2 separate regions of the Homo sapiens genome follow, and region 2 is linked to region 1. The links come from fine-mapping of genetic effects on gene expression. Tissue or cell type: monocytes. Region 1 holds a variant in brackets; the other region holds the start of a gene. All regions are shown on one strand. Distances are from middle to middle.

Region 1 (8,105 bases):
GGTGGAGTCTGCCTCCTGAATTGTTCCTGCTTAAGTGGAGGAGAAAGATAGAGGCAGCCACCTGTGCTCATGAACTTAGAAAACAAAATAGCAGCCGCCACAGAGATTAAGATGCAATTCCGAAGCCAGGCGCGGTGGGCTCACGCCTGTAATCCCAGCACTTTGGGAGGCCAAGACGGGTGGATCACCTGAAGTCAGGAGTTCAAGACCAGCCTGACCAACATGGTGAAACCCCATGTTTACAAAAAGTAGCTGGGCATGATGGCGGGTGCCTGTAATTTCAGCTATTCAGGAGGTTGAGGCGGGAGAATCCTTTGAACCCAGGAGGTGGAGGTTGCACTGAGCCGAGATCGCACCACTGTACTCCAGCCTGGCAACAGAGTGAGACTCTGTCTCCAAAAAAAAAAAAAAAAAAAAGGGCAGACTGTCTCCTGGGGGTGTTTGTGTGGGTTCTTTGGCTATTTCCCAGGCTGACAGTTTTCACAGCCTCCTGCTGAGATTTCTTCTCTTCAGGTGCCTTAGTCTGTTTGGGCTGCTATAACAAAATACCATAGACTGAGGCCGGGCACAGTGGCTCGCGCCTGTAATCCCAGCACTTTGGGAGGCTGAAGCGGGTGGATCTGAGGTCAGGAGTTCGAGACCAGCCTGGCCAACATGGTGACACCCCATCTCTACTAAAAATACAAAAATCAGCCGGGCGTGGTGATGGGTGCCTGTAATCCCAGCTACTTGGGAGGCTGAGGCAGGAGAATCGCTTGAACCTCGGAAGTGGAGGTTGCAGTGAGCCAAGATTGTGCCATTACACTCCAGCCTGGGCGACAAGAGTGAGACTCCATCTCAAAAAAACAAAAACAACAAATACTATAGACTGGGTAGCTTATAAACAGAAAAATTTATTTCTCATAGTTCTGGAGGCTGGGAAGTTTAAAATCAAGGTAGATACCATGTCTGGAGAAAACTTTCTGGTTCATAGATGGCACCTTCTTGCTGTGTCCTCACATAGTGGAAGTGAGAGGTGACAGCATGCTGGTAGCCCTTGCAGCCCTCTCTCGCTCTGGGCGCTTCCTCGGCCTTGGCGCCCACTCTGGCCACGCTTGACGAGCCCTTCAGCCTGCCGCTGCACTGTGGGAGCCCCTTTCTGGGCTGGCCAAGGCTGGAGCTGCTTCCCTCAGCTTGCGGGAAGGTGTGGAGGGAGAGGCGCGGGTGGGAACCCGGGCTGCCCGCGGCGCTTGTGGGCCAGCGCCAGTTCCGGGTGGGCGTGGGCTCGGCAGGCCCTGCACTGGGAGCTGCAGGCCGGCCCCGCCGCCCCGGGCAGTGAGGAGCTTAGCACCTGGGCCAGCAGCTGCTGTGCTCGATTTCTCCCGGGGCCTTAGCTGCCTCCCTGCAGGGCAGGGCTCGGGACCTGCAGCCCGCCGTGCCTGAGCCTCCCCGTGGGCTCCTGTGCAGCCGGAGACTCTCCAACCATTGCTGCCCCCTGCTCCACGGCACCCAGTCCCATCGATCACCCAAGGGCTGAGGAGTGTGGGCACATGGCTTGGGACTGGCAGGCAGCGCCACCTGCGGCCCCGGTATGGGATCCACTGGGTGAAGCCAGCTGGGCTTCTGAGTCTGGTGGGGACTTGGAGAATATGTCTAGCTAAGTGATTGTAAATACACCAATCAGCACTCTGTATCTAGCTCAAGGTTTGTAAACACACCAATCAGCACCCTGTGTCTAGCTCAGGGTTTGTGAATGCACCAATCGGCACTCTGTGTCTAGTTAATCTGGTGGGGACTTGGAGAACCTTTATGTCTAGCTAAGGGATTGTGAATGCATCAATTGGCACTCTGTATCTAGCTCAAGGTTTGTAAATGCACCAATCAGCACTCTGTGTCTAGCTCAGGGTTTGTAAATACACCAGTTGACACTCTGTATCTAGTTAATCTAGTGGGGAGGTAGAGAACTTTTGTGTCTCGCTCAGGGATTGTAAATGCACCAATCAGCACCTTGTCAAAACGGACCAATCAGTTCTCTGTACAACAGACCAATTGGCTCTCTGTAAAATGGACCAATTAGCAGGATGTGGGTGGGGCCAGATAAGAGAATAAAAGCAGGCGGCCCGAGCCAGCTATGGCAACTTGCTGGGGTCCTTTTGCACGCTATGGAAGCTTTGTTCTTTCACTCTTTGCAGTAAATCTTGCTGCTGCTTGCTCTTTGGGTTTGCAGTCCCTTTATGAGCTGTAACACTGGCCGCGAGGGTCTGCTGCTGCATTCTTGAAGCCACTGAGGCCAGAAACCCACCAGAGGAACAAACAACTCTGGATATGCCACCTTAAGAGCTTAGAACACTCACCGTGAAGATCTACAGTTTCACTCCTGAGTCCGCGAGACCGTGAACCCCCCAGAAGGAAGAAAGTACGAACACATCCGAACATCAGAAGGCACAAACTCTGGACGCGCTGCCTTTAAGAACTGTAACACTGACTGTGAGAGTCTGCAGCTTCATTCTTGAAGTCAGTGAGACCAAGAACCCACCAATTTTGAACACAGGAAGGGGGGGTGGGGGGCATCTCTCTCACGCCTAGTTTATAAGGCACTGCTCCCGTGACCTGATCACTTCTTAAAGACACACCCCCACCACGTAATGCCATCACCTTGGGGGCTAGGATTTAACATGAATTTTGAGAGACATAAACATTCAGACCATAGCACCACCCTACCCAGCTTTTGTAAGGTTCACTTCCATCCAGTTTCAATAGAAATTGCATAATCTTTTGACGGAAATGCTCCTGAGATCCTCCTATATTCAAGCAGACTCCAAATGACTACAGCTGACCCTTGAACAACTTACTTGAACTGTGCAGGTCCACTTGTAGTGTGGCAGAAAATTAAAGAAAAATAAAACCAATTAAAGAAATAAGCTTTCCTGGATTAGGCTGACTTGTCCCAGAGGCAGCGACAGGCACAGCCCAGACACAGAAAAAGTCTTAATAATACTATCTACTGTGCTCTGGAAACTCTTCCAGCACTCCCTCAACATAGCGAGAAGAAAAACCAATTTTCCTTTTATTCAGTTTATAGATTTCTGTTCTCTGTAACTGGTAACTTAAAAGTATTCTGTTTTATCTAAGCAGTAGAGTGAAGGTCATGAGCCTCTGAACAGGCCTGAGTTATGGCCACCTGGGCGCCGTAATGAAGGTTATAGGATAAGCCCGTACCTGGGCAAAGTCTAGATAACAGACATCTGGGTTGCTTAGCGATGGTCATGTGTAATCCTGAGTTATGAACCTGTTACAACTTAATTAACTGTCTTTATCCTGCCTCTGTATCCCTGCTTTCACGCCAGTATACGCTTGCTTCAAGCTAGCCTACCCCCTTTTATGAAGTATGTATAAAAGGCAAGTACTGTCTTTGTTCTGCGCCCAGTCTTTGGACGTTAACTCTGTTGGGTCTAAGTGCACTCAATAATAAAGATATCCTGTATACACCCCAAGGTCTCTCTCTGGTCCTCTTGATCCGGCAACAATAGGTGGATTTTTTTCAGTAAATATATTGGAAATTTTTTTGAAGATGTGCCACAATTTGAAAAAATTTGTAGACCAATCATATAGTCCAGAAATAACAAAAAATTAAGAAAAAGGGTAGTGGGCGTGGTGGCTCATGCCTGTAATTCCAGCACTTTGGGAGGCTGAGGCGGGCGGATGATTTGAGGTAAGGCATTCGAGACCAGTCTGACCAACATGGTGAAACCCTGTCTTTACTGAAAATACAAAATTAGGCGGTGTGGTGGTACATGCCTGTAATCCCAGCTACTTGGGAGACTGAGGCAGGAGAATTGCTTGAACCTGGGAGTTGGAGGTTGCAGCGAGCTGAGATTGTGCCACTGCACTCCAGCCTGGGCGACAAAGTGGGACTCAAGAAAAATTAAAAGAGATGTTGTGAATGCATAGAATATATGTAGATACTAGTCTACTTTATCATTTAGTACCATAAAATGTACACAAACCTATTAGGAAAAGTTAAAATTTATAAAAACTTACACACAGAAACACTTACAGACTGTACTTGGTGCCATTCACAGTCAAGGGAAATGTAAATGAGAATAAAGATGCAGTATTAGGCCGAGAGTGGTGGCTCACACCTGTAATCCCAGCACTTTGGGAGTACGAGGAGGTAGATCACCTGAGGTCAGGAGTTCAAGACCAGCCTGGCCAACATGTTGAAACCCCGTCTGTACTAAAAATACAAAAAGTAGCCAGACGTGGTGGCCGGCATCTGTAATCCCAGCTACTCAGTAGGCTGAGGCAGGAGAATCTTTTGAACACGGGAGTCAGAGACTGCAGTGAACTGAGATCATGCCATTGCACTCCAGCTTGGGCAACAAAAGCAAAACTCCACCT[CAAA/C]AAAAAAAAAAAAATTATGCAGTATTAAATCATAACTGTAGAAAATTAACTGTAGTAATACTGTAGTGCTGTAGTAATTTCATAGCCACCTCCCGTTGCTCTTGCTGTGAGCTCAAGTGGTGTGAATATCCACTTAAAATGCCATGTGATGCTAATCATCTCTGTGGGAGCAGCTCATGTCTCTAGTAAATTGCATTTCACAGTAAAGTGATTTCACAGTTCTCATGTATTTTTTGTGTTTAGTGCAATACCATAAAACTTGAATAACACTATGGGACCCACAAAAAGTGCCATTAGTGATGCTAGAAGTACTCCCAAGAAGCAGAGAAAAGTCATGATGTTACAAGAAAAAGTTGAGTTGCTTGATATGTACTGTACATTGAATAGTTGCCTGCCACTTCAGACAGACGATTTTTCTTGTAAACAGATGGTGTAAACTTATAGTGTTGATAAATACAGTGCTGTCAATGTATTTCTCTTTCTTATGATTTTCTTTTTATTTTTTTGAGACAGAGTCTCACTCTGTCTTCCAGGCTGGAGTGCAGTGGTGCTATCTCCGCTCACTGCAACCTGCACCTCCCAGTTGCAAGTGATTCTCCATCTCAGCCTCCCGAGTAGTTGGGATTACAGGCACCCGCTACCACACCCGGCTAATTTTTGTAGTTTTAGCAGAGATGGGGTTTCACCATGTTGGTCAGTTATTCTTGAACTCCTGACCTCAAGCAATCCACCTGCCTTGGCCTCCCAAAGTGCTGGGATTACAGGCATGAGCCATCGTGCCCGGCCATGATTTTCTTAATAACATTTTTTTGCTTACTTTACTCTAAGGATGTGATATATAATACACATAACATATACAATATGTGTTAACCATTTATGTTAGCAGTAAGGCTTCTGGCCAACAGTAGGCTATTAGTAAAAGTTTTGAGTGAATCAAAAGTCAAAAAAGTAGCTGGGTGTAGTGGCATGGTACAGGTGCTAGACTACCATGCTCAACTACTTGGAAGACTGTGGCAGGAGGATTGCTTGAGCCCAGGAGTTCGAGACCAGCCTGGGCAACATAGCAAGACTTTTTTTTTTTTTTTTTTTTTTTTGCGACAGAGTTTTGCACTTGTTGCCCAGGCTGGAGTGCAATGGCGTGATCTCCGCTCACTGCAACCTCCACTCCCGCGTTCAAGCGATTCTCCTGTCTCAGCCTCCCAAATAGCTGGGATTATAGGCATGCACCAACACGCTCAGCTTTTTGTATTTTTAGTAGAGACAGGGTTTCACAATGTTGGCCAGAATGGTCTCGATCTCTTGACCTTGTGATCCACCTGCCTTGGCCTCCCAAAGTGCTGGGATTACAGGCATGAGCCACCGAGCCTGGCCAAGACTCTTTAACAAAAGAAACTTATGTGTTTATTTTCAACTGAGCAGGGGTCAGTGCCCCTAACCTCCATGTTATTCAAGGGTCAGTTGTATTTTCCAAGGGATTTACATATTTATTTACTTATTTATTTATTTATTTATTTTTGAGACAGAGTCTCAATCTGTCGCCCAGGCTGGAGTGCAGTGGTGCGATCTCGGCTCACTGCAACCTCCACCTCCCGGGTTCAAGTGATTCTCCTGCGTCAGCCTCCCGAGTAGCTGGGATTACAGGCACGCGCCACCACACCTGGCTAATTTTTGTATTGTAGTAGAGACAGGGTTTTGCCATTTTGGCCAGGCTGCTCTCAAACTCCTGACCTCAAGTGGTCCACCCACCTCGGCTTCCCAAAGTGCTGGGATTACAGGCATGAACCGCCAAGTCCGGCTGGGGTTTACATTTAGCTCAAAGAAAATCTGTGCCCTTGCTCCCCATACCTTCACCCCGTTGATAAAAGCACAGTTGGCTTCCAACACTGCCCTCTTTTCTCTGTGGCCACAGGCAGCTGTGATCCCAGCCACTCACCATTGTGTTTCAAGGTGTTACAGGCTCAACAAAATATATGGCTATATATTGGTGATTTTGCCTCAACAACATATATTGTCCCTCAACAAGATATATTGAAGTCCTAACTCCCAGCACCCCAGAATGTGACTAGATTTGGAAATAGGATCTTTACAGGGTGCAGATGTAATTAATTAAACTTAGGTGAACGTAATATGTGTAGAGAGAGTTCTTCATCCAGTATGACTGGTGACCTTATAAGAAGAAAGAGACACGCAGGAGCCGATGGCCTTGTGACAGTAGAGACAGAGATGGGAGTGATGCATCCATAGGCAAGGAATACCAAGGATTGCAGGCAAACACCAGAAACTAGGAAGAGACAAAGAAAGATTCTCCCCTCAAGGTTTCAGCGTGGCCTTGCTGACATCTTGATATCTGACTTCCAGCCTCCTGAATCGTGAGACAATAAATTTGTTGTTTCAAGTGACCCACTTTGTGGCACTGTTAGGACAGCCCTAGGAGACTGAGCACCAGTGTCAGGAGACATAGTCCCATTCCTCAGGTACTTCTCTAAAGTCCCCTTAAAGCCAAGGGTGGGAAGGGGAATGACATAGTACACAGCACTGCCCCAACTCTGTGCCTAAAGAAATCCTCAAGTGCCTTAAGGAATCCTGAATGAATCCTCCGTTTTTTCACATATTGATAGGGATGCTGTGCACGCATAGGTGTCCGGCACCTACTCGAGTTTTCTCAGACTTGCGGCCTTGGACAAAACAAGACAACAGAAAAATGTATATTTTCACATCCTGTTACATGTATATGTCCTTCAACTTAGCAATTCCACTTCTAGTTATTATCCTACAGAAACAACTTGTACCTGAGCCCAAAGATGGATAAATATGGCCGTGCACTGAAGCATTGTTTATAATAGTCAAAAATTTAAACAACCTATGACATTCAGTAGCAGAAGAATTAAACGAAGGCATATATCCACATAGTGGAATACTATTAAAAAGAAAGTTGACATTAACATGTCTACAATACAGATTATAGAGTTTTAATAAGCTGCAAAGGAAGATACACAATATGGATCCATGTATGCCAAAAGAAAACTATACATTTGTACATATATATGTGTATATAAATGCATAGAAAAGAGTTTTGAAGGAGACTTAGGAAATTCAGGACGGTGGCTACATCTGGAGAAAGGATAGAGCTTGAAGAGGGAAAATGAAGCAAAACTTTCCCTTTTTGCTATGTAGACTTCGCTGAGTTGTTTCATTTTAATTATTCCAATGGAAACCTTTTACTTTTGTAATTAAAATGCAACATTAACACTGAAAATGCAGTAATTATGTGAAGTTGGAGAAATGAGTTTTGATTTTCTAGAGACATTCTCATTCTATGTTGATTTAGATTTTGTCTCCGTAGCCTCCCAGTGTAGACGGTGATAGACGTCGGTACACATTTAGCAGCCGGTAATTCCTGCCATGTACAACTGCCAAGCAGCAGTGGGGTGCCTTTGTTTCAGAGGTATTTGGGTGCAGTGATTCTTTGCTATGGTTGGAAGCCAGTTTAAGGAGGTTCATGCAGCTGAGGTGAACAGCATTAAGGGGTAAGAAATGACTCCTCAGAGTTCTGAGTTTGTGCCTTCAGGGAACTGGCCTCAGGCTGAGTCCAGTCACTGGGAGCACATTGGCCTTTGAGGTCTTAAATTCATCACTAAAAATGTGCTCCGTTGCCAAGATGCCATTTCCAAACATATAGTGATTTCCTTGCATATGCATCCTGAAGACATGACCCTATTGCT
Region 2 (8,105 bases), 42 kb after region 1:
AACTGCCTGTCTATGAAAATAATGCAGGATAAAGGTTTTGGGGAAGTATTTTCTAAAAAAATCTAATGGTTCATTAGTTTTATATTGGTAATCACATTTTCCACAAACAATCAAAATATTCAAGCAAACAATCTTTACAAGGAACTAGTCAACAAATACTTGAAAACCCACAGCATATTCCAAAAGCCCATCTGAAGGTACAAAAAAAAACACCACTAATTCAGTGGTGGACTTTTGGTACCTGGGTAACAAAACTGTAGCTGAGGGGCTAGGGTGGGGCTATCAGAGCTACTGGTTCTTAGGAAACCTAACTGAAGAACATGTAAGTAAAAAGCAAAAAGGAATTAAATTTTATTTTTGAGGCTAGGTGGAGTGGGTGTTTTGAGATGAATAAAATATCCCACTCAGCTACTTTTCAGAAATAGCAATTTAAAATTCCAGTTAAAATTTTTAAAATTTTATAATACAGTTAGAGAGGAAAGAAGAAAGAGTCTTTGAAAAACAAGCCAGGTGTGGTGGCTCACACCTGTAATCTCAGCACTTTGGGAGGCTGAGGTGGGTGGATCACCTGAGGTCAGGAGTTCGAGACCAGCCTGACCAATATGGTAAAACCCCATCTCTACTAAAAATACAAAAATTAGCCAGGCATGGTGGCAGGTTCCTGTAATTCCAGCTGCTTGGGAGGCTGAGGCAGAAGGATTGCCTGAACCTGGGAGGCAGAGGTTGCAGTGAGCTGAGATGGTGCCGCTGCACTCTACCCTGCGTGACAGAGCAAAACTCTGTCTCAAAAAAACAAAATAAAAACAAAAGAAAAAAGAAAAAAGAAAAAGGCAGTAAAGGAGGTTATGAATTTCTTTAGACAGAGATAGTGTCATCTGGCAAGAGTTGGCCAACCTAGAAGTTAGAGGGAACACAGTCCACAGGATAAGGGCTTGCCTTTGTCTCCTGACTGTCCTCAATGCTAACACCAATTGCAAGGCTGGAGGGCACCCAGGACCACCCTCAAGTGCAACAATTTGCTAGAAAGACACCCAGAACTCACTGCAAGCTGTTAAACGCACAATTAATAGTTTATTAAGGGAAAGGATAGAGATTAGAATCATCCAAGGGAGGACACACACAGGATGGAGTCTGGGGCAGTAGCAAATGTGGAGTTTCCATTGTCCTTTCCCCATGGAGTCAGCATAGGGCACCTCTACCAGAATTGATGTGACAGTACACAGGGAGTCCTGCCAACCAGAGATGCTCAGCTCATCCAGTCTCGGTGTCCAGAGTTTTTAACAGGGCTCCATCACCTGTGCATGACTGTATAACCTGAAGCCCCCACCCTAAATCACATCGTTAAGACAATCCAGGCAAATAAAGACTCCTACCAGTCATTAGAGATTCACTTCCCAGAAGCTGAGGGCAAAGCCACACCTCTTCTGGGGCAAGGTTAAATTTTTTACTATACACACCCATATGAAAGAGAAGCTCATACCCATCATAGGACAGAAAAATAGATAACACAGGAGCCCAGAGAGGCAGACATGCCAGGGAAGTCTTTGGCATTGAAACTTAAGAGCTTTAGTTTTTAAATTTTGTTATAAAAATTTCCAAACATACCAAAGTAGAATACTATAATGAATTCCCAATACCCATCATCCAGGTTCAACAATTATCAAACTGCCTTACTTGCTTCATCTCTCTCTCTCTTTATTTTCTTTCGTTTTTGGACAGAGTCTCGCTCTGTCACTCAGGCTGGAGTGCAGTGGCGCAATCTTGGCTCATTGCAACCTGCACCTCACAGGTTCAAACGATTCTCCTGCCTCAGCTTCCCAAGTAGCTGGGATTACAGGTGTGCGCCACCAGTCCAGCTCATTTTTGAGTTTTTAGTAGAGATGAGGTTTCACCATGTTGGCCAGGCTGGTCTCAAACTCCTGACCTTAAGGGATCTGCCCGCCTCAGCCTCCCAAAGTGCTGGGATTACAGGCGTGAGCCACCATGCCTGGCCTCATCTATCCTTTTCTTTTTGTGCTTAGAGAACTTCAACTATCCATGCTATTTCACCCCTATATCCTTAGTACACTTTTCTTAAAAATATCAACATTTTCTTATATAACCTTGACACCATTAACGATGATTTCTAGGTATCTTCTAACACTCTGTCCTTACTCAAAACTTCCCCAATTGTCTTAAAAATACCTTTTTCAGTTGATTTATTCTAATCAAGAGCTAAGTAAGGTCTACAAATGTGAATATTATATCTCGTAAGTCTCTTTTACTCGTGTGACACTGAGGCACTTTGTGCCTTAATAGTATTTCAAGGTCTAATATAAAAAACTGGCATATATATATATACACACACACACTCTTCAGAGAAGAGGGAGCAAGACAAACCAAAATGTTAAGGCCACATTTTAGTAAACACACAGTGTATTTATTTAAGAAGTCATTTGCCCAAAATTCTTTAAATAACGTTCGACCGTAGGCATTTACCTGCTTATATAGCGCGTAGAGTTTTAGCTTCACTTCGTTTCCTGGATCCTTTTTCAAGAGTTTCACTTGATTCATTGAATTTTCAAAGTCCTTCTGACTGGCTCTCATTGCTGTTCTATTCATGTGCAGCTGAACTACCGGGAAACTAGTGACCTGCAGAGAACTACAATTAGGCAGACTGATTTCTATTTGTTCCCAACCCTCACATTTCTGCAGCCTGATTTCTAATTGTTCCCAGCCTATACATAACAAAATGCCATGTTTGTCTATAGATATTTTCTTTATACTTGCCTCAGCAAACTGGCTGCAAATAATTGGCTGTAAGGATTCCAAGATAATAAGTCAATACAGAAGCTAACAGTAGTAACTTTAAATAAAAGGAAAAGTAACCATCCAGGGAGGTATCTGTAAGCAACTAAAGATAAAAGCAGCCAGAACAGGAATGACCATGTAAATTTTGCCAAAGGCAAGAAGTGAAGTGCATGCAAGACAGTGGACAGCAGGAAACCAAAAGGCTAAAGTGCACAGAATTTAGTGAAGTGTCCCAAAGTCCTGAAACAGCCTCTGCACTCACTGATAAGCCATAAGCTATATCAGGTCAATTCTTGCCTCTTTGCTGGCGAAGCTGGTGTTCCAACATACACACAGGTGGAAGGAGGGGAGAATGGATGTGAACATACAAGAAATATTCAAAAGAACACACGAGCAGTTGCTGGCATTCCAGATAGAGCCACAGCCTTCTCAGCAGATGGGAGGGAATCTACCTGCAGTGGAAGGGAGTCAGTGAAGGGGGCTCAGCAGGCGTGCCCCTTTCTATGGGTATGTTTAACCAGCCAGCCAGGAACAGAGCAGAAACAGCAACCACCGCGGGGGTGATCAGCACGTTTTTAAGCACACATAGTGAGCGGGGGTGGGGTGGCAAACTTGAATGCACAGGACTCAGGCCACAAGCTAAAAATGGAGTTCACGACGATGACACTGAATAATAGAGTTAATGGCAAAAAAGATGATTAAAATAATACAGGTTACAAAGCCCAAACCTAACACACAAACACAATTATGTAACTCGAAAATGGTGCAATGAACTCTAGGTTCAAACTTTGGACTATTAGTAACTGATTCAGTAAGATCAGCCTAGAGTAAGTTTTACATTAAAATGATTTTCTGTAAAGGGAAAAACTGCATCTTATATGGCAAATTCCACGTAGAAAACGAAAGAAAAATTTAAAATATCCACAGAAAGCCGAAATGTACAAGTTTCCACAAAATGTGGAACAAATTTATTTTTAAATAAAGCGTGAGTTTTAAAAACAAATAGCAAAAACACGACCATTTAAGAAAATACATAAAGTCGGGAAAATCACTCATAATTCTACCACTTCAAGGCCACCACCGTGTTTCGGTTTTGTTCCCTATGCACAGATTCGTGCGGGTTCCCGGGACCCCAGGGAGGTGCAGCGTGCTTCTTAGCCGTTACTCTGTACCCGGCCATTTCACTTTATAGCATACGTGTTCTCCAAGAAGCAGAGTGTTAAGTCCACACGAGTGATAACGGCTTGCGTTTACCTCGCTTTTAGCAAGCGACGCTTTGCACCCCAGAAGCAGCCCGGCTGGGAAGTGCAGGCCCGGGTGCTCAGCTGGGGCGGCTCACCCGCCCGGAGTCCGGCCCCAGGAGGATGGGAGCGTGCGCGGAGGCAGGCGGAGACCTTGGGGACTGCTGACAGGGAACCATAGCCCTGACCTCCCGACGCGCCCATCCTGACCACTCCGGGCCCAGCGGTGCAGGAGGGCGCGCGTGAGGTCGTCACTTTTTAGCACTACCTCACCGGAAAACCAGCAAAGCAAAATCCTGTTGCCACCTAGACAATAGGGAAGGAGGGTCTTCCAACGGCGGCGACCTTCGCCTGGACAGCGGTATCCTGCGGGCGACCATGGGCCGAACGGCCGGGACTCCAAGCTTACCTCGGACACGAACGCCGCGCCAGTCTCCAAGCCAAGTACGCCATCGCCATCCCTTGGGCGGCTCTAGGGCTGCGGGGGCTCGGGGGTGGGGCCGGGTCTCGGGGGCGGGGCCTAGCTCGGTCTGCGGGGGCTCGGGGGTGGGGCCGGGTCTCGGGGGTGGAGCCGGGACTCGGGGGCGGGGCCTAGGCTCCCGGGCTGCGGGGGCTCGGGGGTGGGGCCGGGGCTTGGGTGCGGGGCGGGGCCGAGAGCAGAGCCCAGGCAGGAGCCTGGGGCATGGGCGGGGCCAGGGTTGGGGCGGGGCCAGGCTGAGAGCGTAGCCACGCCGCATTCGCCATCGCTAGCCCGTGGCCTCCTCTGGGGCTGCGGGGGCTCGGGGGTGGGGCCGGGGGGGTCGGTGCGTGGGCGGGGCGGGAGCTCTAGGCGGTTAGGAGTCGGGGCTCAGATGCGGGGGCGGGGCCGGAGCGAGGCCGGGTATCACCCGGGAGTGGAGGAAGTGCGGGGGGTTCGCGGCGCGGGGAGGGTGATCCCGGGAGGACTTGCGCGGCGCGTGGGGCGGGGCACAGATGCTCCCCGGCCTGGCTCCGAGTAACTGCGAGCTGGAGGCGCGGCTGCTCTCTCGGGCGGACCTCAGCTCTGCGAACCCTGTGGCTGCCGGAGCACTGAGCGCCCTGCCCGGAGTCCCGCGGAGCCTGGCGAGGAGGGGTCGCTGCATCCCGAGGGCCAGCCCTGAGCCGGGAGGTGGGGTAACAATTGAGGGCGTATGCTTAAAAGCTGCTAGGTCATGCATCCCCAAATCGAAGGTTTGCAGACCTGGTAGGACGCCTGGGGGTCAGAAGTGATTTTTGGAGTACCCAAGTTTTTAGTGTCAGTGAAGAGTTTGTGGATATTTTTGAGTTCTGCTGAGGCATTTGCAAAGTATTTTCTTTGGGGAAGAATTCTTAAGAGTTGGAAGGGCCTTGGCTGTGTCACCTTGTCCAGTTCCCAGAGAACCAAAAAACAAAACAGAACAAAACGAAACAAAACCACCCCTCTAAATTCTGTGCCCAAGTTGTCCCATCCAAGCATGCCTAGGAGTTTTAGATTTATGTAGCTGACACCTGTGGACTACCTATAGTGAGCCAGGCTAATTGTAAGTCTTTGGACAACCCTGTAAGGAAAATGATATTGCCCTGTTGAGCTGATGTGGAAATTGCCCTGTTGAGCATATTGCCCTGTTGAGCTGATGTGGAAACTGAGACCCAGAAAGATTAATCAGGTGAATTCCCCAAAGACAGGAGGCTTGCAGGTGGGCAGAGTCCAAGTCTCAAGTAACTTTATCATTAAGTTTCATCAGGTAGATCTGGGTAATAGTGTAGATGGGGCAACACCAAAAGTCAAATAGAACAATTTGGGCTTATCCCAAAGAGATTTTTTTTTTTTTGAGATGGAGTTTCCGTCTTGTTGCGTAGGCTGGAGTGCACTGGCACAATCTCGGCTCACTGCAACCTCCACCTCCTGGGTTCAAGTGATTCTCCTGTCTCGGGCTCCCGAGTAGCTGGGATTACAAGCATGCGCCACCAGGCCCGGCTAATTTTTTGTATTTAGTAGAGATGGGGTTTCACCTTGTTGGTCAGACTGGTCTCAAACTCCTGATTTCAGGTGATCCACCCGCTTCGGCCTCCCAGTGTTGGGATTACAGGTGTGAGCCACCACACCTGGCCTCTCCATATATTACAAAGTGGTAGTTGGTAGGCTGAGCTGCCTCTCTCAGAGACCTTGACTCTCTCCAAGGCTGTTAGATAACCTCAGAGGTAATGGAAATGCAGTAATCAGATATTGCAGATAATACAAGACTCATTCATTTCCAGAAGATGAAACAGCTGTCATGGAAATATTTTTTAAATCTCATACTGGTAAGCATATTTTGATAGTGAAACCTTTTGCAATGCAAGCAAACTACTCTCAGGCTTATACCTACCACAGAAAAGAGTGGGGTGTGGGAAATTAGCTTATCTTTTTCAAACTATAATTTTAAAAATATAGAAAGAGCATGTGTCAAAGATTTACTTAGCTCATTAATTAGGGAACCAACAGGGTGCTAAAGAAGAAGTTAAAAGACTAGTTTAATATAGTCAATGTTAAAAAAAGAATGCTGGAATAGATTGCAAAGTTAGAAACAAAACTGGTTAATATCCCATAGAGCAATAAAACCATAACCTCGGGAGGAATGTTTTTCCTATTGGAGAAATCATTTGCATATCTACCAGCTGTCATTTACTAAAGCCCCATTATATCCAGCATTTGAGAGAAAGGAGATGGTTAAAGAGACAGACATTCCTGGTTAAAGAGACAGACATTTAGATTCCTAGATCCTAAAGAGGGTCATCTTGGGTCCGTATTTGGTTTACTAAACTGTTAAGAGGTGTCCAGACCATGCCTTGTAAACATGGCTGCCATGGCCCTGTGGGTGGGAGGGCCAGTTGCAGCAAAAGGGAACCATTGTGATTTTGGTAGATTCTCCACCTGAGCTTGAAGATCATTGTATCTGTGCTAAGGAGTTTGGATTCCGTGCTGAGAGCAAGCAGAGAGCCATTGAAGATACAATTGGCATGCCCAGCTATCCAGTTCTCAGTGAAATCCTGGACTCCAGATATATCTTCAGGGTGTAATGGTTCTGGATAAGAGTAGGAAAGGCAGAAACTCAGTCAAGACCTCTCTAAAGCTCTAATCTTCACCCTGTTATATAACCAGCTTCCCCTGGAGCTTATGAAAATCTTGGGGAGGGGGTCCTCCAGTCTGGTTAGATCCTGTCTTATTGATTGCAGGGGACTGATGCTGCCTGGGAGGGCCGTTGATGTTCTTTGGGTTGAGAGAATCTCAGACTCTCTTAGCAGGTGCACAGGAAGTGTTGTCTCCGGCTATAATGAATCTTTGGGGTCAGCATATCGACTTCACAGTGTTGTGCTCAGTGGTAGTGTGAATGTTTCTTTTTTAAGATCATAGAATAGATTATATCAGAGTAGAATGTTACATGATGACTCTGTCAGTCATGATAATTTTTATTTCCAATATTTACATCATCAGATACTGTTGTTACAGCATGTACAGAGTCTGTCACATTCAGTCTTGAGGAACAATTCTGATACACTGTCCCAATTAACAGTGCAAGCTAGAAACCTGGAAGAGTCTTTGATTCCCTTACCTCACTGACACCTCACATCTATCATTCATCAAATACTAGTGATTCTGTCTCCTAAATATATTTTTTTAATTTTCCCCCTCATCTCACATCCCTCTGCATCGTCTTAATTCATGCTCTCATTGATTTTGAGATTACTGTTACCTGGATTCCTGTAGCAGCCACTTCCCAGTTTTGCTAATTCAGTTACCTCTGCAATCCATTCTCTCCCTGCTTCCAGGCTGGTCTCCCTAAATTTTAAATCTTACACTCCACACGATTCTCCCCGATCTCTCCCCTTGGCTGAAAATCTCTTAGTGAGTCCCCTTTGCCTGTTAAACAAACCCAAGCTGCTTAGCACTGGCAAATAAGGCCCACAAGATTTGCCCTTGCCTACCTTCTCAGGCACCTCTTTCCAGCCCCACATGTTAACTTCCCATTTCAGGTGAACTTGGGATGCTCAGTTTCTCTGAGTTTCCAGGTTCTCTCATTCCAGGCATTGGCATAT

Evidence for each region. PIP is the estimated chance that this variant, and not a neighbour inherited with it, causes the effect.
Region 2: ECI2 starts here. The variant in region 1 is fine-mapped to the expression of ECI2 in monocytes (BLUEPRINT, PIP 0.95).

What each region holds. Positions count from the first base shown.
Region 1 is chr6:4,088,952-4,097,056 of GRCh38, forward strand. It overlaps the pseudogene TEX56P. Among named protein-coding and RNA genes, the nearest start is that of FAM217A, 14 kb to the left of the region's middle. The variant CAAA/C (reference allele first, on the strand shown) is at 4,381.
Region 2 is chr6:4,131,071-4,139,175 of GRCh38, forward strand. It overlaps ECI2 (enoyl-CoA delta isomerase 2), which reads right to left and starts at 4,505. Exons shown (of 10, transcript NM_206836.3): 1 at 4,441-4,505; 2 at 2,479-2,641. The coding sequence starts at 4,490. It overlaps ECI2-DT (ECI2 divergent transcript), which reads left to right and starts at 5,002. Exons shown (of 4, transcript NR_103764.1): 1 at 5,002-5,178; 2 at 6,291-6,332. RefSeq lists silencers at 4,551-4,690, 4,851-5,060.